Linked DNA regions of Homo sapiens. The protein of the gene in region 3 purifies or fractionates together with the protein of the main gene of each other region. This does not show direct contact. Each region holds a gene or a part of one and is shown on either strand. Other genes may lie near its edges.

The links.
Region 1: the proteins of CUEDC1 (region 3) and MIB1 purify together in Homo sapiens (co-immunoprecipitation; one large-scale study listed by IntAct). This does not show direct contact.
Region 2: the proteins of CUEDC1 (region 3) and RBPJ purify together in Homo sapiens (affinity purification with mass spectrometry; one large-scale study listed by BioGRID and IntAct). This does not show direct contact.
Region 4: the proteins of CUEDC1 (region 3) and HFE purify together in Homo sapiens (co-immunoprecipitation; one large-scale study listed by IntAct). This does not show direct contact.
Region 5: the proteins of CUEDC1 (region 3) and MAB21L3 purify together in Homo sapiens (co-immunoprecipitation; one large-scale study listed by IntAct). This does not show direct contact.
Region 6: the proteins of CUEDC1 (region 3) and WWP1 purify together in Homo sapiens (co-immunoprecipitation; 2 studies listed by BioGRID and IntAct, with this or other methods). This does not show direct contact.
Region 7: the proteins of CUEDC1 (region 3) and PPP4R3B purify together in Homo sapiens (affinity purification with mass spectrometry; one large-scale study listed by BioGRID and IntAct). This does not show direct contact.

What each region holds. Positions count from the first base shown.
Region 1 is NC_000018.10:21,817,292-21,820,791, reverse strand, and holds part of MIB1 (E3 ubiquitin-protein ligase MIB1), read right to left. Parts: intron 3,169-3,500; exon of another isoform or gene 2,964-3,168; intron 1,298-2,963; coding exon 1,146-1,297; intron 1-1,145. UniProt on the Homo sapiens protein: E3 ubiquitin-protein ligase that mediates ubiquitination of Delta receptors, which act as ligands of Notch proteins.
Region 2 is NC_000004.12:26,415,014-26,418,513, reverse strand, and holds part of RBPJ (recombining binding protein suppressor of hairless), read right to left. Parts: intron 3,040-3,500; coding exon 2,874-3,039; intron 1-2,873. UniProt on the Homo sapiens protein: Transcriptional regulator that plays a central role in Notch signaling, a signaling pathway involved in cell-cell communication that regulates a broad spectrum of cell-fate determinations.
Region 3 is NC_000017.11:57,871,913-57,875,412, forward strand, and holds part of CUEDC1 (CUE domain-containing protein 1), read right to left. Parts: intron 1,806-3,500; coding exon 1,679-1,805; intron 944-1,678; coding exon 751-943; intron 1-750.
Region 4 is NC_000006.12:26,093,929-26,097,428, reverse strand, and holds part of HFE (hereditary hemochromatosis protein isoform 1 precursor), read right to left. Parts: intron 3,244-3,500; coding exon 3,203-3,243; 3' UTR 3,026-3,202; coding exon of another isoform or gene 3,018-3,025; 3' UTR 1-3,017. UniProt on the Homo sapiens protein: Binds to transferrin receptor (TFR) and reduces its affinity for iron-loaded transferrin.
Region 5 is NC_000001.11:116,131,899-116,135,398, reverse strand, and holds part of MAB21L3 (protein mab-21-like 3), read right to left. Parts: intron 2,268-3,500; coding exon 2,034-2,267; 3' UTR 1-2,033.
Region 6 is NC_000008.11:86,408,547-86,412,046, forward strand, and holds part of WWP1 (NEDD4-like E3 ubiquitin-protein ligase WWP1), read left to right. Parts: intron 1-2,991; coding exon 2,992-3,328; intron 3,329-3,500. UniProt on the Homo sapiens protein: E3 ubiquitin-protein ligase which accepts ubiquitin from an E2 ubiquitin-conjugating enzyme in the form of a thioester and then directly transfers the ubiquitin to targeted substrates.
Region 7 is NC_000002.12:55,607,623-55,611,122, forward strand, and holds part of PPP4R3B (serine/threonine-protein phosphatase 4 regulatory subunit 3B), read right to left. Parts: intron 1-3,500. UniProt on the Homo sapiens protein: Regulatory subunit of serine/threonine-protein phosphatase 4 (PP4). May regulate the activity of PPP4C at centrosomal microtubule organizing centers.

The DNA.
Region 1 (3,500 bases), on a different chromosome or scaffold from region 3:
CTTCACGTGTAAAATGAGGATATTAACACCTGCCCCAAAAAGCTGTTGAAAGGATTAAGTGAGATGATGCATGTGAAGCACTTTGCAGAGGCTGGCATGTGGAAAGTGCTATCATAATCTTCTGTTTGAAGGGCAGGGAAATATAATACTACTGTCTTCTTCACAATGCCAAAATCTGAAGTGTTCAAATATTTGCAATTTGGAAAAAAAATCAAGATGTGATCTAAAATATGATCATTCATTTTGTCCTACAATATATACCCACTGTTACAGTTACCAATAAGCAGTAGCAATAAAATCCTTTTGTTTCCTGTGGTCACCCTCTAGTGGTGATCCTAAGAAGCTAAAGGAAACATGATATAAAAATACAATAAGGAACCAAAGAATAAGTGTTCAGAATAGATAAAATTATCAAAATAAAAATCAAAGTGAAGATTTTTCTTAGTCCAGGTATACAGGTTTGACTCAAACATAAACAGAAGACATCCAATGCAGAATTTCCTAAAATGCTTAGGGTAAAGTTGTTCCAAAAAGTGAGTTAATGGAAATCTCTAAATTAAGCAAAGCTAAGCATTTTCCCATTCTGTGGGACACCGCAGATCCTTCATAAAGAATGTGATTCTCCAAAAGGAGTCTTTCTCAAATGTCAACCAGCAAATACTTTTTTCAGTAGAATACTATTGCTGTAACAATGGATGAGGGGATAGCTATACTAGAAGTTTATATAACTAATTACATTATTAATAAGGAATTAGGTAACTTAGTATTTATTTAGTCTTAAGTTTTAAAAAATAATTATCGTGCAAATGGCAACATGAAATTAGAGGACACCCAGATAATTATTTTGAAGAAACATAAATCTCAAAATAAAATGCATTTTAATTAAATCTTTAGAAAGAAACTAGTATTCCTGATATTTTACAACCACATTTAATATAAACTTAAATAATCATTTCATAATATTTGTATTAGATTAACAACCAAATAATCATCATATAAAACTAAAGGCATAATATTCACAAAACTTTAAAATGATTTAAAATACTAAAATAGCCAAAATTATTTCTTCATCAGTATCAGAAAAAGAGAATCAACAGTAGGAAAATATTTTTGAATTGCACCTAAAATAGTAAGGGGTGACATACCTGGGATTTCCCCTTAGTGCAGCATGATGCAGAGCATTAAATCCATTATTGTTTGTGATGGTAACATCTGCTCCAGCTTCCAAAAGAACTGCTAGGATATCATCACGTTTCTTACTTATTGCATCATGAAGAGGGGTATCACCTTCAGAATCCTTTAAGTTTAAAGAAATTTTCATTAGTTCTTCAATTAATTATCCCATCTAATAGTAATACTTACACCAAATGCTAAGCAAACAGAAGCAGAGACCACATCCAACAAATACCAATAAAAGAGCACTTTCTGTGATAACTACAAAAATATAGGCAAAGGCTGGGCATGCTGGCTCATGTCTGTAACCCTAGCACTTTGGGAGGCTGAGGCGGGAGGATCAGCAGAGGCCAGGAGTTCAACACCAACCTGGGCAACATATAGAGACCTTGTCCCTACAAAAAATTTTAAAAATTAGCCGGGCACGGCGGTGTGCACCTATAGTCCTAGGTACTCAGGAGGCTGAGGCAGAAGAATGGCTTGAGCCCAGGAGTTCAAGGCTCCAGTGAGCTATGATCATGCCACTGCACTCCAGCCAGGGTGACAGAGCGAGACTCTATCTCCAAAAATATAAAAAACAAAAATACAGGCAAGAAACACTGGCCACATTATAGTAAGGAAAGACATACTCAAATCTAGTTGGAAAACAAAATAAGCATGCTGGAATTTTTTTTTCTTTTTTTTGAGACCAAGTTTCGCTCTTTCACTCAGGCTGGAGTACAATAGCGCGATCTCAGCTCACTGCAACCTCCACTTTCCGGTTTCAAGCGATTCTCCTGCCTCAGCCTCCCAAGTAACTGGGATTACAGGCACCCACCACCATGCCCAGCTAATTTTTGTATTTTTAGTAGAGACGGGGTTTCACCACGTTGGCCAGGCTGGTCTCAGACTCCTGACCTCGTGATCTGCCCACCTCAGCCTCCCACAGTGCTGGGATTACAGGCGTGAGCCACCTTGCCCGGCAAAGTTCTTTTTTTGTAGAGATGGGGGTCTCAGTATGTTGCCCATGCTGGTCTTGAACTCCTGTGCTCAAGTGATCCTCCCACATGAGCCTCTCAAGGTGTTGGGATTACAGGCATAAGCCACCACTCCTGGCACATGCTGAAGCTTTACAAAGCAAAAAGAAAAGAAAAGAAGTAGCCTCAAATATAACTAATGACAAAAACCAGTGAAGTGATAAAGCTGCCCCCCAAATTTTATAAGTTTAAAATGGCCTTAATTGTCATACCCTGAAATTCCATACCAAACCTACACCATAACAATGAATTGAAAGTCGGTGGCTTTCAAACTTGGCTGCTCATTAGAACCTGCTGGGGAGATCTTTTAAAATCTGTTGTACAGAGGAAAAAAAAGAGAAAAAAAAATCTGATGTCCAGGCTGTTCACCATACTAAATCTCTAGAGGTGAGAGTGAGGCATGAGTAATTTTTCAAAGCTCCACAGATGAACATCTTGTGCAGTCACAGGTGAGAAACATTAATCTAAGCGTTTTCAAAGGGCAGCAAAGTGGCTAGTTAGCCAAAGGTAAAACAATTGTAAATTAAAATTTAGCAATCTCAGTCTACCATTTTTTCAAGCTGACTACTTTTTACATTAATCAATTGACTTAGCAGTAAGTTTTTATTCATTAGCAGTCATGTACAGACATGAATAATTTAAATTTCATTCATTTCATAGTTGAACAGATGCTATTCTCAGTAAAGTCATATACAACCTGGCCTACAGCATATACTACAGTTGCCAAATTCAGTTTGCCACTTGTTTTTTGTTTGTTTTATTCTTTTTTACTAGACATATTTCCTGCATGGTTTGTCTCCCCAGTCACTGTCCACAGGATTCTGAGAAGCTACAGGAATATGAAAGTGCAAACACCAGACCCAGCTTCATCTCCAACACTGAGGAAAGGGACTGTACATCATGGGGCAGAGCCCTATGCTCCCCTAAGCCATGTGGACAAAGCCTAGAAAAAATGATATCCCAGGATATTACACATTGGAGCCACCTGTTTTTGTAAATTAAGTTTTATTGGAACACAGCCACACCCATTCATTTATGTATTATCTATGGCTGCTTTCATTCTGCAATGAGAGTTAGATAGTTGTGGCAAAAGCCAATAAGCCACTATTATCTGTGCCCAATATAGAAAATGTTTGCTAATCCCAGGAATATATTCATCCACCTACATAAAGAATTCCTGCTAGGCATGGTGGCTCACACCGGTAATCCCAGGACTTTGGGAGGTGGGAGCAGGAAGATTGCTTGAGACCAGAAGTTTGAGACCAACCTGGGCATTTCTACAAAAAATTAGCCAGGCATGGCAGCTCACAC
Region 2 (3,500 bases), on a different chromosome or scaffold from region 3:
AACACACATATATCTCCTTGGAAAGAAAGGAAATATATCCCTAATTACAATGAGTAGTTTGAATCCACAAAAATCATAATCAAGATAATTTTATGGGAACTATTAGTTTTAAAAAACTATAAGGCCACTGACCACAAACTACTCAAATTCCATTAAGAAAAGAAGGAAAAAGTCACTGACTCATAGAAAATAAGCAAATAAAACTAAAATTACATTTGCCTTGCTATTGCAAAAGGTTAAATTAGCTAACGGAATTCTAGAAGAGAAAATGGCATATAATCATCTCTCTAGAAATACTCTTTGAAAACAAGATCTTTAGGCAATAAAAGACATTTCCCTGAAAGAAAGAAGAAATACCAAATCTAATGCTGCAAAGTGATACTGCAGAAATGTTTAAATTATAGAAACAAAATGTTACCAAGAGTATATGATGTTTAAAAATAAGAAAAACACAAGAGTGTTAACTAAGTCATCCTTGTTGCGTAGCTTACCTAGCTGTGACTATAAAAAATGTAAATTTTTTTAACAAATTAAAAACATTACACAAAATCTAAGATCCAACATATTACCTACATACAGCCAAATGTCATGACCATAAATTTAAAGGGCTAGATATACTAGAATTTTGTTGCAGTGAATATTTAAAATAAGTATAAACACCAAAAATTGCAAAATGAATATCCCATATTTCTCAATAACTAATTGTACCACTCAATGAACAGACTATTTCCTTACACGAATGGAGTTTAAGTGAGGCAGACAAGAGCAAAGTGCCTCTCACTGAAGCTCAGAATCCGCTGCTCAGGACATCTTTGCCTACCTTGGTCAAAACCATGTTCTTATACCTTTATGCTCTAAGCACATGATTATATTGTTTTTTTTTCTGCCTGGGATGCCTTCTACTAACTCTCACCAGTCTTGCTTTACATAAACTTCCCTAATAGAATTTTTCCTTAAAATTAAATATTAACATATAATTTTGGCTTACAGACATTGTACTAACCTATTACTAGGTATTTTAAATACTAGTTAAATGCTCAAGCTCTCAGGTATTCTATTCCTCTTCTGCCAGTTTCTAGGCCTTGGGGAAAGGGTATACTAGTGGAAGTTGAAGAAAGATATAATGAAAAACAGCAGAAAGATCTCCATGTTGAGGCAGCCCCTAAAGGTACAAAATTAGGATGTGGCACTACTAAGCCACAATGCTGCGAAAGGCAAGCAGTGATACTACTGGTTGGTTTATTTGGTATCACCTCATTTAAAATTACTGGAAGCTGGAACTGGTTAAAATGAGCAATGAAGTAGGATTAAACAGTTATACACACAGGTAGCTAGAATCCCTGGCTTCTCACTACCTATCTGATCCACTCATTCATAGTACTGAATGTCTACATGTGAAGCCTGGAGACATATAACTCTGAGACTTCCTAGGTAACAAGAAAACAGATGAGACAAGACTTAAGATCTATTAGATCAACCCACCACTTAAATATATTCGTTACTTTAGCTCAGGGATCATAATTTAGAAATAGTTTTAGTGGTTTAAGATGAAACAATCTTTATTGTAATAAGTATTATCCCAAATCTAATTTAAAATACATAGTCAACAAATCTTACTTACAAAAACTATAAAGATATAAATGACATACAAACAGCTAAATTTGAAGGAGGTTGACATTAAGACCTGTAGTACTATCTGTAAAATCACTAAAATTCAATTTGAGAGTACAAATCCCCTAGCTCACCTCCACCAACACTACTCCCAACCCATATACCTAGTGCCAACTACAACATAGCAAACACTAAAATATTCAACAAGGATGTATCAAATAATGAAACAGCTGTTTATGCGCTATTTTAGAAGATGTTTAGTCATTGAGATCAGAACTAACCATTTTCCAAAGTACAGTAGCAAGGAAAAATAAAACCATAGCTAAATTCTAAGTGAATAAAAAACTATCTTTCAATACTAAAAGTATAGATTGGCTGGACACGGTGGCACACACCCGTAATCCCAGCACTTTGGGAGGCTGAGGTGGATGGATTGCTTGAGCTCAGGAGTTCAAGACCAGCCTAGGTAACATGGCGAAACCCCATCTCTACAAAAAAATACAAAAAAGTTAGCTGGACATAGTGACACACACCTATGGTCCCGCTACTTGTGAGGTGGAGGTTGCAGTCAGCCAAGATTGCACTATTGCATTTCTGCATGGGTGACAGAGTAAAAACCCTGTCCCGGGGGAAGAAAAAAAAAGATCTAGATTGACTGCTTTCTAAATTCATACAATATAATCAGTAAAACTAGCTGATAGATTGTTTTCTCTAGAAAATTAATTGAAGAACCCCTGCCACGCACTAAAATTTGAGTAAAGCCAACTGTGGCTGTTCTTGTCTACAGTATCACTCTGCTTCACTCTGATGTCAAGTAAACGTTTATGATCGTTATAACCCAGATAAATGCTTTCCACAATGTATATATCATCGTGTCTAGTATAAAACTAAGATTAAAATAGCAGAGTAAAACATTACTGAACAATGTATTTTTGTTGATAAACCTCTGTCAAACAGAAGATGAGCAATCAGCCTCCTAAATTTATTACTGGCTTCCAATAGAAATCTGATTTATAGTCTGCTAAAACTGCTTGCAAGCTGGGGAAGCTTACTGCATGCCACCTTCCAATGTCAGCAGCGTAAGCTTCATGAGTGACTAGACCAAAGCTATGAGAGGCATGTTTTTTGGTCCTAGTTTATATATTCAAGAAATTGTTACCAATAGTTATTAAAGAAAAAAATCTCCACCACAAAAATGAATATGAAAACTACATTCTGGTACCATGGTGCCCCTTTCTGGTGAACTAGCAGTCTTGATTTACCTTTCCTTCCAAGTTTAGCTGCTGCATTTCTTGGTCACTATTTCCTATCCCAATAAATGCACACGGTTGAGACTCTTGTTCAGAACAACCATCGCGTTCCATTTGTTCTTTTTTTTTCTTCCATCCACTGCCCATAAGATATACACAAGGAGGTGGGCAAAAAAACCTGAAGAATAATAGGGGAAAAAAAAAAACAAGAAGCAAAAATCAATTAGATTCAATAAAGCATTTCCTTTCCTTGAACATTATGAATACAAAATCATATTGAAATGCACCTATTCCCCAATGAAAAATTTTGGTGAAGCCTTTTGTAATGCAAATAATCATGCCCACAGGACAGAAATCGGGACTTCCACAATGACTAAATCTGTTCAGGCAAAATATTGGAGTTATGCATACAGTTAGATTAAATACTTTTTAGAGTACAGAACTTCTCTTTGTATGGCTCAGAGTTCTAAATTACCAGAGTTCAGCAAATCCAGTGTACTCTAACATATTACAAAACACGATAAACCACCACAAAAATCTGTAATTACTAATTAAGGCCTATTCAAAATGACACAATCATTAATGAGTGACATTACTATTATGGATACTGCATTTAACTTAATGTGGTAATTAACCTGG
Region 3 (3,500 bases):
AGACTATGTCTCAAAAAATAAAAAATAAACGGAAAAGCCTTGAGGCTTCTAGCACCTTTGCTGCAGAGCTGGGGCTAACCTTGGGCCTCAGCCCAGCCTTCTCCCTCCACAACTTGCTCCTCCCCCACCAACACACCATCAGTTACACACACAAGCTCTCACGCTGTGGCCGTCACAGGGACAGAGCTCCACAGCCCTCTCGTCTCCTCTACCCCAAACGCACTCCCACCCTGCAGGGGAAAGGCAGCCAGGCTAGGGAGCAGGGTCTCCAACCCAGAGACAACCCAAATACCTGCAAAGTTCCAGAGCCCCTGCTCTAAAGTCTTCCACTCAAGAGCCTCCCCCGCCCTGGCCTTCATGAACCCAGTCGTTCTGTTTCCGGAGCTCCAGACACATCACGCCTGCCTTGGGGCTGGGGCTCTGTGAGGAGGGGCAGTGCTCTTCTCCCTGCTGCCTTGTGCCAAGGCCAGTGCCTGGCACAGAGCAGGTGTGCAAAGGGAAGAAGGCCTAAGAGTGCACATCCTTCTTCCTCTGAGTCCCGAGGGAGAAAGGGGTGGGCTAGTGACCCAGGTCCCCATAGGCAGAATTCTGAGGCTCCCATGGGATAACTTGGTGGGAGTCATGCCTCAATAGGACAGAAAGCACCTGGCCCCCTCAGCCCCCAGCTCAGTGTTTTCCTGAGCCCCAAGGCTAAAGCCAGCATCACCTCCCTTCTTCAGCCAGGGAGAAGTGGCTGCAGGCGCTGCCCACCTCTCTCCAGAGCGAGGAGGAAGTCGCGGTTCCGTTGCAGCTCCTTCATGAACTCCTCGTTCTGCAGGAAAAGCGCGATCCTCTCGTCCTCCAGGTACTGCTTCCAGCGGCTCTCCTGGTCTCCGGGCCCTGGCCCAGCCATGGCAGGTGGACATCCCTCTCCACTCCCAGGCTTGGGGCCCCCAGCGTTACCCTGAGGAGGGAAGCGAGCATGTTGAATGTGTACACACAAGGGTACATGTTGCACAAACGTCCACATCCCTCTGGTTGCACACATGCCCTGTCCAACATCCTCCAGCCCTCACCTGAGGCTCACACCTCCTAATGGAACCTGGTTGCGAGCCAAAATCCAACGGACAGGTCAGAGCCATTGCTGCAGGGGACACAGCAGTAGCCTAAAAACTATTTTTCCCCCACGCCACAGACCACCTCATACCTTCATCTACAACCTGAACAGTCCTGAAAACAAATCTGCAGACTGTGGAACAGCCTATACGTCAATTCCCAAACTCAACCCTCTCCCTGCACCAGCAGCCTCAGGGTGGACCTGCCCCGCTGTGGGGCACCTTGGGGCATGCCAACATCTAGCAAGAAGCAGCCTCTGGCCCTTTCCCAAGGGAGGAAGGGGGGTGCTCTGGCCCTCCACCATTGGCCACCCCATGCCCGCCTCTCTCCAGCCTGAGGTGACTGCTGCAGCAGACAGCCTCCTTAGGCTGTCACCTTCCCTGGATAGAACAGGAAACCTCCAGGCCCAGGCAGGAAGTGAGGCTTTCAGTTCAGCATTCCTGCCCTACGAACCCAGGGCAACAGAAATAGCTCAGCCTGGGTTTAAACATCAGGAAGTAAAACTGGCTGGCACAAATTGTGTGGGCAAAGAGAGATGCTGGACAAGCAGGTGGGAGTGGAAGGCGGGGGCGGCCCCTGTTACCTGTATGCTGTCCAGCTGCTGGGGCAGGATGCGGAGAAAGTCATCCGGAAGGTTGCCCAGCAGTGGTGGGTTCCAGTTCCGATAGCGTCTCTGGCTTGTAGGGGCTCCAGAGCCCAGCGCGTCGATACTAGGGGATGGCAGGTGACAGGGAAGAGGAAGTCATTAAGCCCAACCCCAGGTCTCCTGGCCCCATCACACCAGGTCCTCAGGCAGGTCGGATCCTGCTCAGAGATTCCCATGGCCTCCACTGCCTCCAGAACAAAGGCCCGTCACTCTGTCTCATCACTGGAGATGTCTCCACCAGCCTCAGCGAACTCCCCAGCCATTCATGCTCTCCAGTCACTCAGTGCCCTTCCAGGTCTCTGGACCTACAGAGCTGTCTGTCCACGGTGCACATGTGGAACTCTGTGGATTTAGCCATAGATGTTTACAAATGTCCCCTAAAGACAGCAGGGATCGCATCCTTTCATGCTTCTATCCTAGCACCTACACAGTGCCAGGCTCATGGTGCTGAGTGACAGGTATGGTCCAAAGGAACAGACACATAAGCCACCAACAGCACAGCCTGCTGCATGCTGGTTTGCTGAGGAAGGGGCATATGGGGACGCCAGGATCCCTACAGAGGGTAAAGCAGATCTGAGCTCCAGTTCTGGCTCAACCACCAGCCGGCAGGGTAGTCTTAGGTGGGCCCCTGTTCCCTCTAGGGCTCGGTTTCCTTATCTAGAAACTGCTGCCTCCCTGCCCAGGTGCTGGGGAGCCCCTCAGGAGGCCGTGTCCTGAGCAATGTTCTGAAAACGTGCGTGGAGATGTGAGTGTGGAAGGGATCTCGCTCTCAGGGTGCTCTGGGGCCGCTCTTTCCAGGCCCGTTGTGTGTGTGGCAGGAGCTCTGTGCCATGGCAGAGCCAACAGCTGGGCAAGGCAGTAGAGGAAGAGGGGGTGGCACACACCCTCCCTGACCCCCAGGCTCCCGCCCTACCGCCCTGGGCCTGAGGGCAGCTCGGAGCCCGGCCAGGAGGTCCCCACAGCTCCATGGCAGCCTGCAGCGTGGCAACCGCAGGACACGTGTTCCGCTGAATCAGGAAAACGGCACACTGAGAAGGCAGCCGAGGGCCGGGCGGTGGGGGCTGCTCTAGCTCTCGGGCCTGGCTTTGATTTGGTCTTCAGCTCTAGGAATCCCGCCCGCCCCCTCACTGGAGGGGAGCTTTTCCGGGCTGCCGCTGACTATGGAAATAACTTCCTTTCCTTTTCTATTTCGGGCGGGTGGCCGGCGGCGGGGGCGAGGGGAAGGGGCGGGGGCGGCAGCAGAAGGGATAACCAGCTGCTAAGTGCCTGGTGGGAGCTCAGCTCTTGCAGACTGGAGCCAAGGGAACCCCAGCACGCCTCGTCCACCCTCTCCCTGCACAGACACAGGGGGAGAGGGAATGGTCTGGAGAGCAGCTTGCATCACAACCCGGGACTCCCATTCCTAGGCCAAATTTTTTTCTACATCACTGCCACCTTCTGTCACTGTTGGAGGCTTCATTTTTCTCCAAAGGCCAGAGATGGGGAGAGAGGAAGCCTCATCTCTAAGGGACTCGCAGACCACCCCAGGCTACAGCAGGGAGGGACCCTCGCCAGGGGTATTACCAGTTCTTGAGGTCTCAGGGTCTTCATCTGGGACATGGGTGCCCACCCCCAATTTAACCACACCTCGGAGCCACCCAGGAAAGCAGTGGAGGGAGAACCTCAGAGGTGCACCTGGACCCCTCTAGCCATGAAGACTCCAAGTGGAGAAGGGCACAAGGTGGAGGAGGCCCCTGTTCTCAGCTGAGTTTCCTTGCTG
Region 4 (3,500 bases), on a different chromosome or scaffold from region 3:
TTGCCAGAGGTGAATAAGAATTTAAAATGCAGGTCTTTGATTTTTCAAATGTAGTTGACCTTAAGAATTTATGAATAAAGCCAGAAAAATTAAGCTTAAAAAACACCGAAAGAAAATGAGGACTTAAAATTTCTATTAAAAAAATTAACAGGCCACAGTTGCTGATGTTTAGTAAATGTGTTAGTGAAATGTGTTACTGTGAAGACTGGGGTGTTTCTTGAAATCTCAGCCCAGGTGAAATAAAACCAATATAAAACAAATGCTTACCTAATAAATTAATTGTAACATATTCCTTATGAGGTAGAAGAGTAAGTGAAGCCTTATAGCAGTCTGCTTTCAGTATAGTAAGATATTAAGAGAGAAATAATTTGTCATATGCTTTCAGAATGGTTTGCTGGTAAAATAACCAATGTCTTACAACTTAGACGACAATGTCCCTAGAGTGAAGAAACACGATTAATTCGGCTACCACAGTTGAATGAAAATATTCCGTAAGACAAAATGTAAAGAAATTAGAAGCAAAATAAATGTCTCCAAAATGACAAAGCGATTAAGTATATACACAAGATGAACAAGAACTTCAATAAAATCATGCAGTATACAATACAATATACATTTATTAAAGTATATGCATTTTTAATGCAACAATAATACTAACAGGTAATAGACAAGTTGTTAATAGTTTTTCACTGGCTAATTAAATAACAGCTTTAATTGTATTCATTTTATAGCTTTTCTACAATGAGCGTAAATCACATTTACTTTTTTCTACATAACTTTTCTAACCACAAAAAAAGAAAATGGTTTAAAAGAAGAGATGAGATATCTTTGCTAAAATTTAATGCCTAAAGAAGAAACTTCTGAGCTGTATATGGTATCCTGAAGCACCTGCCCTTCAAGACAGAATGCTTGTACCACATTTATGCAGCCAAGTGCATGTAGTAACATAAAGTAAACACATGCCATCTGGATATATATATTAAGACTCTTTTGACGGCTGGGCAGGGTGGCTCACACCTGTAATCTCAGCACTTTGGGAGGCCGAGGCAGGCGGATCACGAGGTCAGGAGAGTTCGAGACCAGCCTGGCCAACATGGTGAAACCCTGTCTCTACTAAAAATACAAAAATTAGCCGGGCATGGTGGTGCACGCCTGTAATCCCAGCTACTTGGGAGGCTGAGACAGGAGAATCGCTTGAACCTGGGAGGCAGAGGTTACAGTGAGCCGAGATCATGCCATTGCACTCCAGCCTGGGCAATAGAGTCTCAAAAAAAAAAAAAAGACTCTTTTGAACATGGTGAACTGATTTCCCAGAATCTAGCAATTCCTGAATGTCCTGGTTAGATTTTTTTTTTAATGTGCACCGGAACCCCAGTGGCTCCATGGAAGGACCTGGGCATCCTCTAAGCCACTTGGTGGCTTCCATTATACCATCTCAAAATGAGAGAGCTTACTCCACTTCATTGAGGGAAATACCACCAGAGTTCTGACTCCAGAGGCACTGGCCTAGGGAGGACACCGTGTGTGAAGCCCAGCAGGGCCACTAGCTGTCCCCACCAATTACAGTCCTTGCGTAGGGTCCAAAGAAATGAATGCCAAAGAGAGCAACAGAGGAGCAAGGGAGTCACATTCCAGGACCTTCCTTCAGGGACTTTTAAAGGAAACATGACAGCTGAGGATCAGTTGGTTGTTTTCTGCTGTTCCCCTTCATGTGATTCAAGCTCACTCAGAAGAAACACAATGAGACAAGAGAAGAGCCATCTCCTTCCTTCTCTATTTATTCTAGGCATCTAAACTACTGAATGTAGTGGTGTCTGAGATGTATCAAACGGTCAGATTGACTGAGTTTGAAACCTGTTTCTATCACTGACAAACTATGAGATACTCTATACTTCACTTTCTTTTTTTTTTCATTTTTTTATTTTTATTTTTATTTTTTTGAGATGGAGTCTCACTCTGTCACCTAGGCTGGAGTGCAGTGGCGCAAACTCGGCTCACTGCAAGCTCTGCCTCCTGGGTTCATGCCATTCTCCTGCCTCAGCCTTCCGAGTAGCTGGGACTACAGGCGTCTGCCACCACGCCCAGCTAATTTTTTGTATTTTTATTAGAGATGGGGTTTCACCATGTTAGCCAGGATGGTCTCGATCTCCTGACCTCGTGATCCACCCGCTTTGGCCTCCCAAAGTGCTGGGATTACAGGCGTGAGCCACCGTGCCCGGCCTACTTCACTTTCTTCATTTAAAAAAGAAATGGGGATAATAGTACCTATCTCATAGAATTATTGTAAGAAGTGCATGCAGTAATGCATGTAAGTAGGTGCTCAGAAGAGTCGGACACGAAGTAAGTGCTTTTATCATCCTTATCATAATTTTCATTATCAGAACAAGGAGAGACCAGGTAGAAAATTATTGTGATTCTTCAGGTCTGGAATACTAGAGTAGCATCCCAAATGAAGGCACCATTAAACTTTGCAAATCTGTATGACACCTTCATGCCAATTAGAAAAAACACCTCTTCACAACCCCTTTCAAGATATTTGCCTCCTACCTGCTAAAAACACCCATCATACTACCCACAGATAGCCATGATGCTTTTTCTGGGACAGGTGCCTCTTCCATTCGTGCAGTGTACAGCCTTCATAGCTGTGCAACTCACATCACAATCAGATGGAAGAATCCCCAAGGCTTGGTGACAGATGAGTTACTGGGTAACACAGAGAGAGGATTCAAAGGAAAAGTTGAACGGGTCCAGAAAATGCATAGATACATGTGTAAAAATCTGGTAAGGTTATGACTAGCCACGTCCCAGGGTTCAAAGCTTTTCTCAGATGTTAAAATGAATCATGTAAGTCCCCCAAATTTAAGGAGTCCTCTTCCAAAAATAGGAAATGAAATGACATAGGTGTATGTCTCTGAGGTGACGGAGGAAATGAAGGAAGCCTCTAGATGCAGCTTGAGGTTCATGAGAGACAGTTCCAGGGGAGAGGTCACAGCTAGGGATCACCGGCATGCAGGAACTCAGAAACCTAAATGGGGAAATCTTTTTGAGGAAATGAACAGAGAAGGCTAAAATCAAGGAGTTCGTCAGGCAATTTCTATGTTTAGGTTCAACTCTCTCCTGAAACATGAAGAGCTCATAAATGCACTCCCTCTTTGAGTCTCTAGTTTTGTCTCCTTCCCACAGTGAGTCTGCAGGCTGCGTGTCACTCACGTTCAGCTAAGACGTAGTGCCCCATGGCTCCTCCTGTGGAGACAAGAGACCCAGGAAAGAGGCATCACAAACCTAGGCACCATCTTGCCTCTTCTCTCTTCCTTATTTTCCTCATTCACCCATCTCAATTTAGACCTGGGCACTATTGGATTTCAAGAACCATTATCTCTCATCTGGAAATGCTTATTGGCTTTCTAACTGGTCTCCTCACCTCTCATCTAACTTCTTAACAACACATTCACCATATAAGGGAGATCGTGGTCCTCCTTTCTTAGGATCCTTCAATGACA
Region 5 (3,500 bases), on a different chromosome or scaffold from region 3:
TGAGGAATTTATCCATTTCTTCTAGATTTTCTAGTTTATTTGCGTAGAGGAGTTTGTAGTATTCTCTGATGGTAGTTTGTATTTCTGTGGGATCGGTGGTGATATCCCCTTTATCATTTTTTATTGCATCTATTTGATTCTTCTCTCTTTTTTTCTTTATTAGTCTTGCTAGCAGTCTATCAATTTTGTTGATCCTTTCAAAAAACCAGCTCCTGGATCTATTAATTTTTTGAAGGGTTTTTTGTGTCTCTATTTCCTTCAGTTCTGCTCTGATTTTAGTTATTTCTTGCCTTCTGCTAGCTTTTGAATGTGTTTGCTCTTGCTTTTCTAGTTCTTTTAATTGTGATGTTAGGGTGTCAATTTTGGATCTTTCCTGCCGTTTACAGTACTTTTGAAAAGTAATCATTTTCATTTTCAAATGTGAATTTTCATGAAAACAAAATCAGTAGTTCATGCTTTAGAAATTTATCTTTGGTATAGACATTTGGGCAAAAACATTCAAAAGTAATAAAGGAGCCCCTTGAGTTGAGAAGCATTACATAAACGCCAGAAAAAAACCATTGATCTCACCGAGAACTCCTAGAATTCCTGATCGGTTGTGCCACACAGAATATGTTGCCTTGTGGGCCTCTGTGAAATTCCAAATGGGTGGCTCAAGAGCACTCAGTGCCCAGCTCCTGTGTGAGTCCCCAGACCTTCTTCATGCAGTTACCAGAACAATTGTTTAAAATGCAGTCAGATCGTGATACTCTTCTGCTTCTGGAGAGGCCAAATGTCACACCTTTGATCTTAGAATAAAATACTGATTCCTTCCTGGCTTTACAAGGCCAGGTGCTCTGACTCATGCCAGCCCCACCATGCCTGCCTTTGGTCACTTTTCCTTCCCCTTCAGCTATTTGCATTTTCATCCTTCGGGGACCTTTCTGTGGACTCTACTTCAACATTCTGTTTATTTCCTTTGAAGCACTTGCTTCCATCTGTAATAACTGTGCGTGTTTATCTGTCGTTCATTTCTTGTCTCCACCATTAGGTGGCATCCCCAGGGGGAGGTCCTCATCCACTTTGCTCTTTGCTGTGTTCCCGGTGCCTAATGAGCATTATTTGTCAATGAGTGAGTGAGTGAATGAAGTGAGCAAAGGAACACACTGAGCAGTGACAGACACCTAAGGTCACTCCATGCAGATCATAGTACTAGGTTATTTACATAAATATATAAGGAAGTTCCATCCATGGCCCATGGCATGGGAAGCAAAGAGAGGGCTATGGTTGGGATCAGGCCAAGAGTTGTACTTTCATCTTTGACTTACACTTATCATCAAAACCATTCCCCTCCCTGCTTAGAGAATACCAGCGAAGCAGACAGAACATCAGGAGCCACTGACCCACATGCTAAGGAAGCTGGAGGGCAGCAAGGAAGCACAGGCTCACTAACTCATCAGGTGCAATTTTGCGTCAGTGCTGTGGGTACCGATCCAGGATGCAAACACCAGCTACTCAACCAACCAGGAACACTTTGTGTTGATCCAATGCCTTCCCCTTGAAAAGGCGCCAGCACAGTTTCATAGGCACACAGCCCTGCTCAGAGGTAGGCACGTTAACATTCCCATTTTACAAATGGCAGGAGAATGTGCCCATGATCAGTGGGCTGGGCACAGTATTGGCCAGCAGGCTCATGTCCAGACTTCCAGGGGTTCTGTCTCCATCTTCACTGTGAGACGATCACAGCCTGAACAAGGGAAACTAAGTTCAGAACTGTCACCAGTTCCAAATCTGTGCCTGGGGAAGCCTGATGAGAGCTGTCTCCAGGAGAATTAGCTAGGGCAGAAATGCTTGCTGGGCTCCAGGGAGGCCTGGGCCAGACATCCTGGGGCACAGTTTTCCCCCTGCTGAAGTGTTTCTGGTTTGATGTAATTTCCGCTGCCATTCGTGGCCTTTCTCCTAGGCAGGATCCTGGCACCTGACTGAGGAACCATCCAAAGAACAATGTTAAGCCAGAATAAAATGTCCAAGAGCCTCCCAGGCCGGGGCAACCATCAGGGCGGGCCGATCTGGGGGTTCTTCAGGAAGGTGGCCAGCTTTTGGGCCACAGTGTCCAGTTCAGTCGGGTTGGTGCACTGAAAGAGGTTGCTGTTCCGGACGAAATAGTGTTTCAGGAAGTGCTGGCTCACGCACTTGTGCAGTTTCCTCACCAGGCGCAGAAATGCTTTGCTGAAGACCTGCCAGTCTTTAAAGTGGGGATATTTCTCGCAGGTCCAAAAGAGCACAGTCTGTGGAAGGGAGAAGTGCTGTCAGACATTGTTTCGGGCAATTGAGGAGGATAGCTTGGAAACAATTATTGAGCTTATGTGGCCTTGGAAGGAGGGAGAAAAGAGTTGCCTGGGCAGACTGGATCTACCATGAATTCACAATCCCCAACTTCAGGTGGGCCTTCAGTTTACCAGCTGGTCTCCCGCACCTCTTCCCTAATCTATTCCCTCACTCTCCTCCAACATTTCCAATGTTCACTAATCCAGGCAATGTCTTTGCCTCCTACTTTACGGGGAAAATGGAACCCCTCATCCTCCCAAACCAGACAGATCTTGCCTACTGCGGCACCCACCTCTCTTCCTCCCTGCTTCTGCCTCTTCTGCCTGTGGGGCTGATCCCTCCACAGGGCCCTGGATCCCATCTTCCAGGAACTGTATATGACTGATTACCCTCTTCCTCAACTGCTTTTCACAAGTTGAGAGCTCTCCTGCAACCCCAACCCCACATCTGCCTCCTGCCCTCACTCTTCCCTCTGCAAATCCAGGCTTCTCTGGAGAGTCGGCTCTATTATTTGTGGTCATTTCCTCTCCTCCCATTTCTTGCCTCAGTCTGCTCCAATATGGATTCTTCTCTCATTAATCCTCAAAGGCTCCTCTCGTCAAGGCCCAGTGATCTCCACTTTTCTAAATCTAATAGGCCTTTGTCAGCCTGCACCTTACCTGACCTTTCAGCAGACCTGGTTCTCTCGCCCACACCCTCCCTCCTGAGCCATCCTTCACTTGACTTCCAAGCAATCTGCTCTCTGGGTTTTTTCTCCTAGCATTACAGCGCCTCCCTGGCAGGCTTTTACTCCTTGGCCTGCCTTTGAGAAGTGGAGTTTCTGGAGGCTCAATTCTAGGCCCTCTTCTCCTCTCAGTCTACATTCATTCCTCAGCTCTATGTTGCCTCCACCACAGCAGCTCTAATTCTCACTACATATGAATGACTTGCAAATTTGTGTCTCCAGCCCAGACTTCTCCTCTGACCTGCTTATCGTGTATCTCTTGAGTATCTGAAAGTTATCTCAGTCCCAACATGCCCAAACTGAACCCCTGCTCTTCCTGCACAAACCTGATCTGCCTCCAGAGTTGCTTAACTAGCTAGTTGTGCAACACGAAAACCTAGGAGTCGCCCTTCTCCCTTACCGTCCCCAGTCAAGTCCTGTAATCCTCTTGTCTAAGTATTTCTCGAGTCTACCCATTTACCTTCACCTC
Region 6 (3,500 bases), on a different chromosome or scaffold from region 3:
TTAACAATACTGAATCTTCCCATTGAGAGATATTTTATGTCTGTATTCATTCTTTTTAGTAATGTTTTTTAAAGTGTTTTCTTCACGCTGGTTGTGCAGTGGCTTACGCCTGTAATCCCAGCATTTTGGGAGGCCCAGGCTGGGGAATCACTTGAGGTCAGGAGTTCGAGTCCAGCCTGGGCAACATAATGAAATCCTAAAAATGCAAAAAAATTTAGCCGGGTGTGGTGACGCATGCCTATAATCCCTGCTACTTGGGAGGCTGGGGCAGGAGAATTGCTTGAACCTGGGGTGCTGAGGTTTCAGTGAGCTGAGATCGCGCTACTGCACTCCAACCTGGGTGACAGAGCAAGACTCTGTCTCAAAAAAAAAAAAATTTTTTTTCTTCGGATAGGTCTTGAAGTAATCTTGTTGTTGATCTTGTGTCTGTTCATTTTGCTGAAATGTTTTAGCTCCAATTAATTGGTTCTAATGGGGTTTTTAAAAAAATTTTCTTGTGTATTCTAAATAAATAATCTATTTGTCATTTTCACTACAAATGAGTTTTACCATATTCTTTCCAATGTTGTTATGACTTTTCTTAATGGATTGTCAAATATAATCAATACTGAATTGGCTTGGTAATTGTGATCTTCCTTGTTTTGTTGCTGATTTTAATTTATTCTTTTTCTTTTTCTTTCTTTTTTTTTTTTTTTTTTTTTTCTTCAGACGGAGTCTTGCTCTTTTGCCCAGGTTGGAGTACAGTGGCGTGATCCTGGCTCACTGCAACCTCTACCTCCCGGATTCAAGCAATACTTCTGCCTCAGCCTCCTGAGTAGCTGGGATTACAGGCACACAACCACCACACCCAGCTAATTTTCCTATTTTTTGGTAGAGACAGGGTTTCACCGTGTTGGTCAGGGTGGTCTCAAACTCCTGACCTCGTGATCCACCCGCCTCGGCCTCCCAAAGTGCTGGGATTACAGGCGTGAGCCACTGTGCCCAGCCCTGATTTTACTTTATTCTTGATCTTAATAGAAGTTCTTACAATAGGCTGGGCACAGTGGCTCATGCCTGTAATCCCAGAACTTTGGGAGGCCAAGTTGGGTGGATCATTTGAGGTCAGGAGTTCAAGACTGGCCTGGCCAACAAGGTGAAAGCCCATCTCTACCAAAAAATAGGAAAACTAACCAGGCGTGGTGGCGGGTGCCTGTAATCCCGGCTACTGGGGGGCTGAGGAAGGAGAACCGTTTGAACCCGGGAGGTGGAGGTTGCAGTGAGCTGTGATTGTGCCACTGCACTCCAGTCTGGGCCACAGAGCGAGACACCTTCTCAAAAAAAAAAGTTCTTAAAATGTTTTACAATTATTGTATATTAATGACTGTAGGTTTGTGATAGATAATCTAGATTACTTCTTAATTTTTCATGATTCTTCTTATCAGGCATTTTACCAAGATTTTCTTGAATGCTTTTGGTTTGTTTTGAAAATAATCATATGACGTTTATCCTTTAATCTGCTAACAGTAGATTTTCTAATGTAGTTTCCTAATATCAAATCATCCTTGAATTTATACATGATGTTAGTCTATAGTCTTCTTGTTCTGTTGTTGTTCAGTTTCAGCTTTGAAAGTTTACATTACCTTCCCAGAATAAGTTAGGACACTCCTTTTCACTTTTTCTCCCCTAATGTGTTATAACACCTTAAATAACATAAGAATGATCTATCCAATAAAGGCTTCATAGAATTTTCTCAAAAACCTTTCTGAGCCTGGAGCCTTTAGGAGGGATGATATTAGAACTTTCATCACCTTTTCCATTGCTGCTCTGATTTGTCTTTTTTTCTTTCCCTTGAGTTAGTTTAGCTAATTTCAAACTCATTGATATGAAATTGTACGTGGTATTTCTAATGTTATTTATATTAAACATGTTTTCTTTATAACACTTGGAAAGGTATATTTCATGGTTTCTCCAGCTTTCCTGAGTAAAAAAATCATATGCATTTGTTAAAAATGCAGATCCCCAGGTTCTTCCCTAGAGATTTCCCCTAGAGATTCAGTAAGTCTAGGATGAGGACTTAGATACTATATTTTCAGTAAGTTCTGGAGTCTTATCAGGTGCATTAGGAAATTCTGATCTTTTTTTTGGGTCTTTTGACCAAAATTCATTTTCTTCTACTTACTTTTTTTTTTTTTTTCTGTATCTGGAATGAATTCTAAGCTCTTTTGTTACCATTCTTTCTTACATCTTTAGGTACTTCTTTGGCCATGTCCAGTAGCATTTAATCTGAGTGTTTTCTTTTTGTCATTAATTCTCCTAAAATTTGTGATTATGTCTCCCTCTGCCATTTCCATTAGAACTTTGATATATGGTCTTCCAGTAGGTTTTGTTCTGTAATCTATTCACCCTTACAGTTTTAATTTGACTCATTTTTATAGTGACACGTAGTCGAACTAGATCAATCACACTTAAAATGAAAATTAGGAAAACTGTGTCACTGGATTGCAGTACTGGGTTATTTCTTGAAAAAGTGTAGAATGGGTTCTTGCAACCCCTATAGTACTATCTTAAGAACTGATGCCATCATACAGTTCCTACTATTGGCAAAACAGTTCGTTTGATGTTAGCTACCACTTACACAAGGGAAGGGCGATTGAAAGGGATCATTTTTCAGAGTTTAGATGGCCCATACAGACTTCCTCTCAGAATTGATGATTTGGAGGGAAAACACTGGTTATCTTAATGCTGGTTCCTCTCTCCTTAAGGTTGTTATTATTATACATACTTAAATTTTTATCATTTACATATTCATCCCTGAAATTTTGAGCAACAAAAATAAAATCTCCATTTTATTTTATGTTACATATTTTGAAAATATTACTTTGTCTGCTGTTTGGAGAATGGATTGTAGTTGCTTAGTCTGGATTAGGCTCTGAATAAGTGTAGTCAATTGATTAGGTAATTGATTGCTTTATCATTACTTGATAGATGATTTTATTAATTTTCCCTTCTCAGTTAATGGAGAATCATCCTCATTTGCACCAACTGATAATGCGTCTGTCACGGGTACTCCAGTAGTGTCTGAAGAAAATGCCTTGTCTCCAAATTGCACTAGTACTACTGTTGAAGATCCTCCAGTTCAAGAAATACTGACTTCCTCAGAAAACAATGAATGTATTCCTTCTACCAGTGCAGAATTGGAATCTGAAGCTAGAAGTATATTAGAGCCTGACACCTCTAATTCTAGAAGTAGTTCTGCTTTTGAAGCAGCCAAATCAAGACAGCCAGATGGGTGTATGGATCCTGTACGGCAGCAGTCTGGGAATGCCAACACAGAAACCTTGCCATCAGGGTATGTTAAGCTTTTTAATGTCTGACTTGCATTTAAGTAGCAACTCTGTTAACATACGATTATTGAATGTGTGCATAAAATGTTTTCATTGTTCAGAACTTTGAAATCTAAGTTGGGATCTGAATCATACTATTTATTTACTTGCTACAAAACAAGTACTTTTTGAAACTAA
Region 7 (3,500 bases), on a different chromosome or scaffold from region 3:
GGAGCTCTCCAAACCCAGTCCTAATGGGCTTTTATGGAGGCTTCATTAAACAGGTATAATTAAGTAAATCACTGGCGACTGGTGATTAATAAACCCTCAGCCCCTCTCCCCTTCTGGAGGATGGCGGATGGGGTTCAAAGCCGCAATCTTCTAACCATGCCTTGGTCCTTCTGGTGACTAGATCTATAGATAGTACTATCTACAGTCAGGTCAATGGATATTACTAACAGAATGAAATCCAAAACCCTTTATCCAGCCATCCAATGCCTTTTCCATTTTGGCTACAATCAATGTTTGGTCCAGGTAAACATTGAAAGAGAAGGTCCAGGTAAACAACGAAATCTGAATTAAGGTAACTGAGCACCTTTTCATCATCACTTTCTTTTGCTCTTCTTTTTTTTGATACAGAGTCTCACTCTGTTGCCCAGGTTGGAATGCAGTGGTGCAATCTTGGCTCACTGCAACCTCCACCTCTGGGTTCAAGTGATTCTCCTGCCTCAGCCTCCTGAGTAGCTGGGATTACAGGCGTGTGCCACCACACCGGATTAATTTTTGTATTTTTAGTAGAGACAGGGTTTCACCATGTTGGCCAGGCTGGTCTTGAACCCCCGACCTCAGGTGATCTGCCAGCCTTGGGCTCCCAAAGTGCTGGGATTACAGGTGGGAGCCACTGCACCCAGCCCCTCATTCTTAACTTTAAATTCTTTTCTCTGATCTTGTCAAAATACCAGAAACTAAATGGGGTTTATATTTAGAGTTCTTTTCCAATGCTGAGGACTGACCCTGGGAAACAGTCAACGGTTACTGATCTTTCTTCTTCCTGATTACCAATAACTGATCCATCACATGCCCTGTCAATTCTACCTTCAATAAAGATCACAAAATCCATCCATCTCTGTCCATCTCTATCACCTCAATCCAATCCAACATTATCTTTTGCTTGGACTATGCAGCAATCTCCCAATGAGTTTCCCACTTATTGCTTCTCTTCAATTCCACAGATTGATACTATTAAGTATTTTGGATCATGTCATCACTTTGCATAAACTCTTCAAAAGCTTACTTTAAAAATCCCAACTTGGCTGGATATGGAGGCTCATGCCTGTAATCCCAGCACTTTTGGAGCCCAAAGAGGGAGAATTGTTAAGCGCAGGAGTTTGAAACCAGCCTGGGCATCATAGTGAGACCTCATCTCTACTAAACATTAAAAAAATTAGCCAGGTATGGTGGTATGCGCCTGCAGTCCCAGCTACTCAGAAGGCTGAGGTGGGAGGATCGCACCTAGGAGGTCAAGGCTGCGTGAGACTTAATCATGCCACCGTGCTTTTGGCTGGGAGACAGTCTCATCTCAAAACCACCGCCCTGCCTCCAAAAAAATTCCAAACGAAAAGATAGTGACCAGCCAGAAGCAGCACTCGATGAGGTATTTCTGGATGAATGAATATATGTGGTCAGATCAACAAGACTCAGTCTTGAGCTCTGTTCTTTTCTCAATTTATAGCTATTACCTCAAAGGAGGTTACCTTGTAGCTAAAAATTCATAATTCATCTGATTTTTTTTTTTAAAAGGCTGGAGTGCAGTTGGCTATTCACAGGTGTGATCATCACGAACTATAGCCTCAAACTCCTGGTCTCAAGTGATCCTCCTGCCTCAGCCCCGAAAAGCTGGGACTACTACTGGCATGCTAGGCCTTTTATGATTCTTAAATTAGAATCTCCTGCCGGAAAGTCTCACCCTATCTCTATTCCCAGATGTTCATTTTAAGACCTTTTCATGGGCTGGGTGTGACGACTCATGTCTGTATTCCCAGCACTTTGGAAGGCCAAGATAGGTGGGCTGCTTGAGCTCAGGAGTTCAAGACCAGCCTGAGCAACATGGCATAATCCCATATCTACAAAAAATTAGCCAGGCATGGTGTGCACACCTACAGTCCCAGCTACTCAGGAGGCTGAGGTGGGAGCCTGAGCGCAGGAAGTTAAAGCTGCAGTAAGCCATGATCACGCCACTGCACTCCAGCCTCGGCAACAAAGCAAGACTGTGTCTCAAAAAAAAAAAAAACAAAAAAAACAAAAAAACTCTTTCCATTTATTTTACTGTATGTAACTTCAAAGCCCGGATGGAAAAGAAAAAAAAAGCAAAGCACAAAACAGTATACAGTATGCTACCAGTTATACCAATAAAAGGGAAAAAATACATACAATTGTATGCATATTTGCTTACATATGCATACCTCCAGCAAGATATATAAGAAACTGGTGATGTCAGTGGCCTCTAGCAAGGGAAACTGTACGGACAGAATCTGGCGTGGGAAAGAGACTTCAATAAATACCTTTTGAATTTTTAACTGGGCTAATATATTACACACTAAAAAAAATTTTTTTTAATAAGCCTCAAACCAAAAGATTAATGTAAACCTGCTTAACTTCCCACTTTCTGGAAAGAACCATCACCTTCCTGGCCAGACTCAAAAACACTATCAGTGACCTTTGATTCCTTCTCTTTAATATTTAATCATTTACTAAATTTTCCAGCACTTTCTGGAAAATATACTGGAGCTCTGTTCCTTCAAGTCCATTTACCGTGGTGGAATAGACTTTCATTTTTTGTATCTGAATTATTGCAAAAGGTCTTGCTACTCAAAGATCTTCTGCTCCACCCTATCCCTCCTCCCCAATTTATTATTCATGACATTGCCACACTCATTTCTTTAAACACAGTATCACTTTAGGCCCCTACTCAAGAACCTGTAATGTCCCCTTCTGAACCTGTGTATTATCATATTTGGGATTGGTGGTAGGAGGGGGAGAAACCACTGCTACAAATAGGCTTAATACCTTTTGTAGCAAGTGTATTTCCTTTCCTATCACAGTTCCTTCCACTACCACCACCAAGAATGAAGTTTTTCTTAATGATTCCAGCTTATATTAACCTCTTCCTTAATTTTCTACTGCTCTAAGTCTGTGGAAAATGCAAGTTTACTTTTTATATTTTGTGTTGGCACATACCTGCTGTATAATCTCAGTCAAGAATCTTACCCTTTCTGTACCTTTGTTGCCTCATGTGTGAAATGCTTTCACGGGCTTTCAGTGAAGACTGTGGTAAAACACTGTTATAAGCTATCTTATTATCATTCTTTATCTGTTTCATCTGTTACATCCTGCCTCCAAATAAAACTGCAATGAGGATTTTCTTAAACCCAATTAACACACAATTGTGTTAAATAGGTACACATTCTTATGACTCTGGTTTTTTTTTTTTTTTTGAGAGAGTCTTCCTCTATCGCCCAGGCTGGAGTGCGGTAGCACAGTAACAGCTCACTGAAGCACTGACCTCCTGGGCTCAAGCAATTCTCCCACCTCAGATTCCCAAGCAGCTGGGACTACAGGTGTGTGTCACCATGCCCAGCTAATTTATATTTTTTGCAGTGAGAGTCTCAGTATGTTGCCCAGGCTGGTCTTGAACTCCTGGACTAAAGTGATCCTCCTGCCTCAGCCTCCCA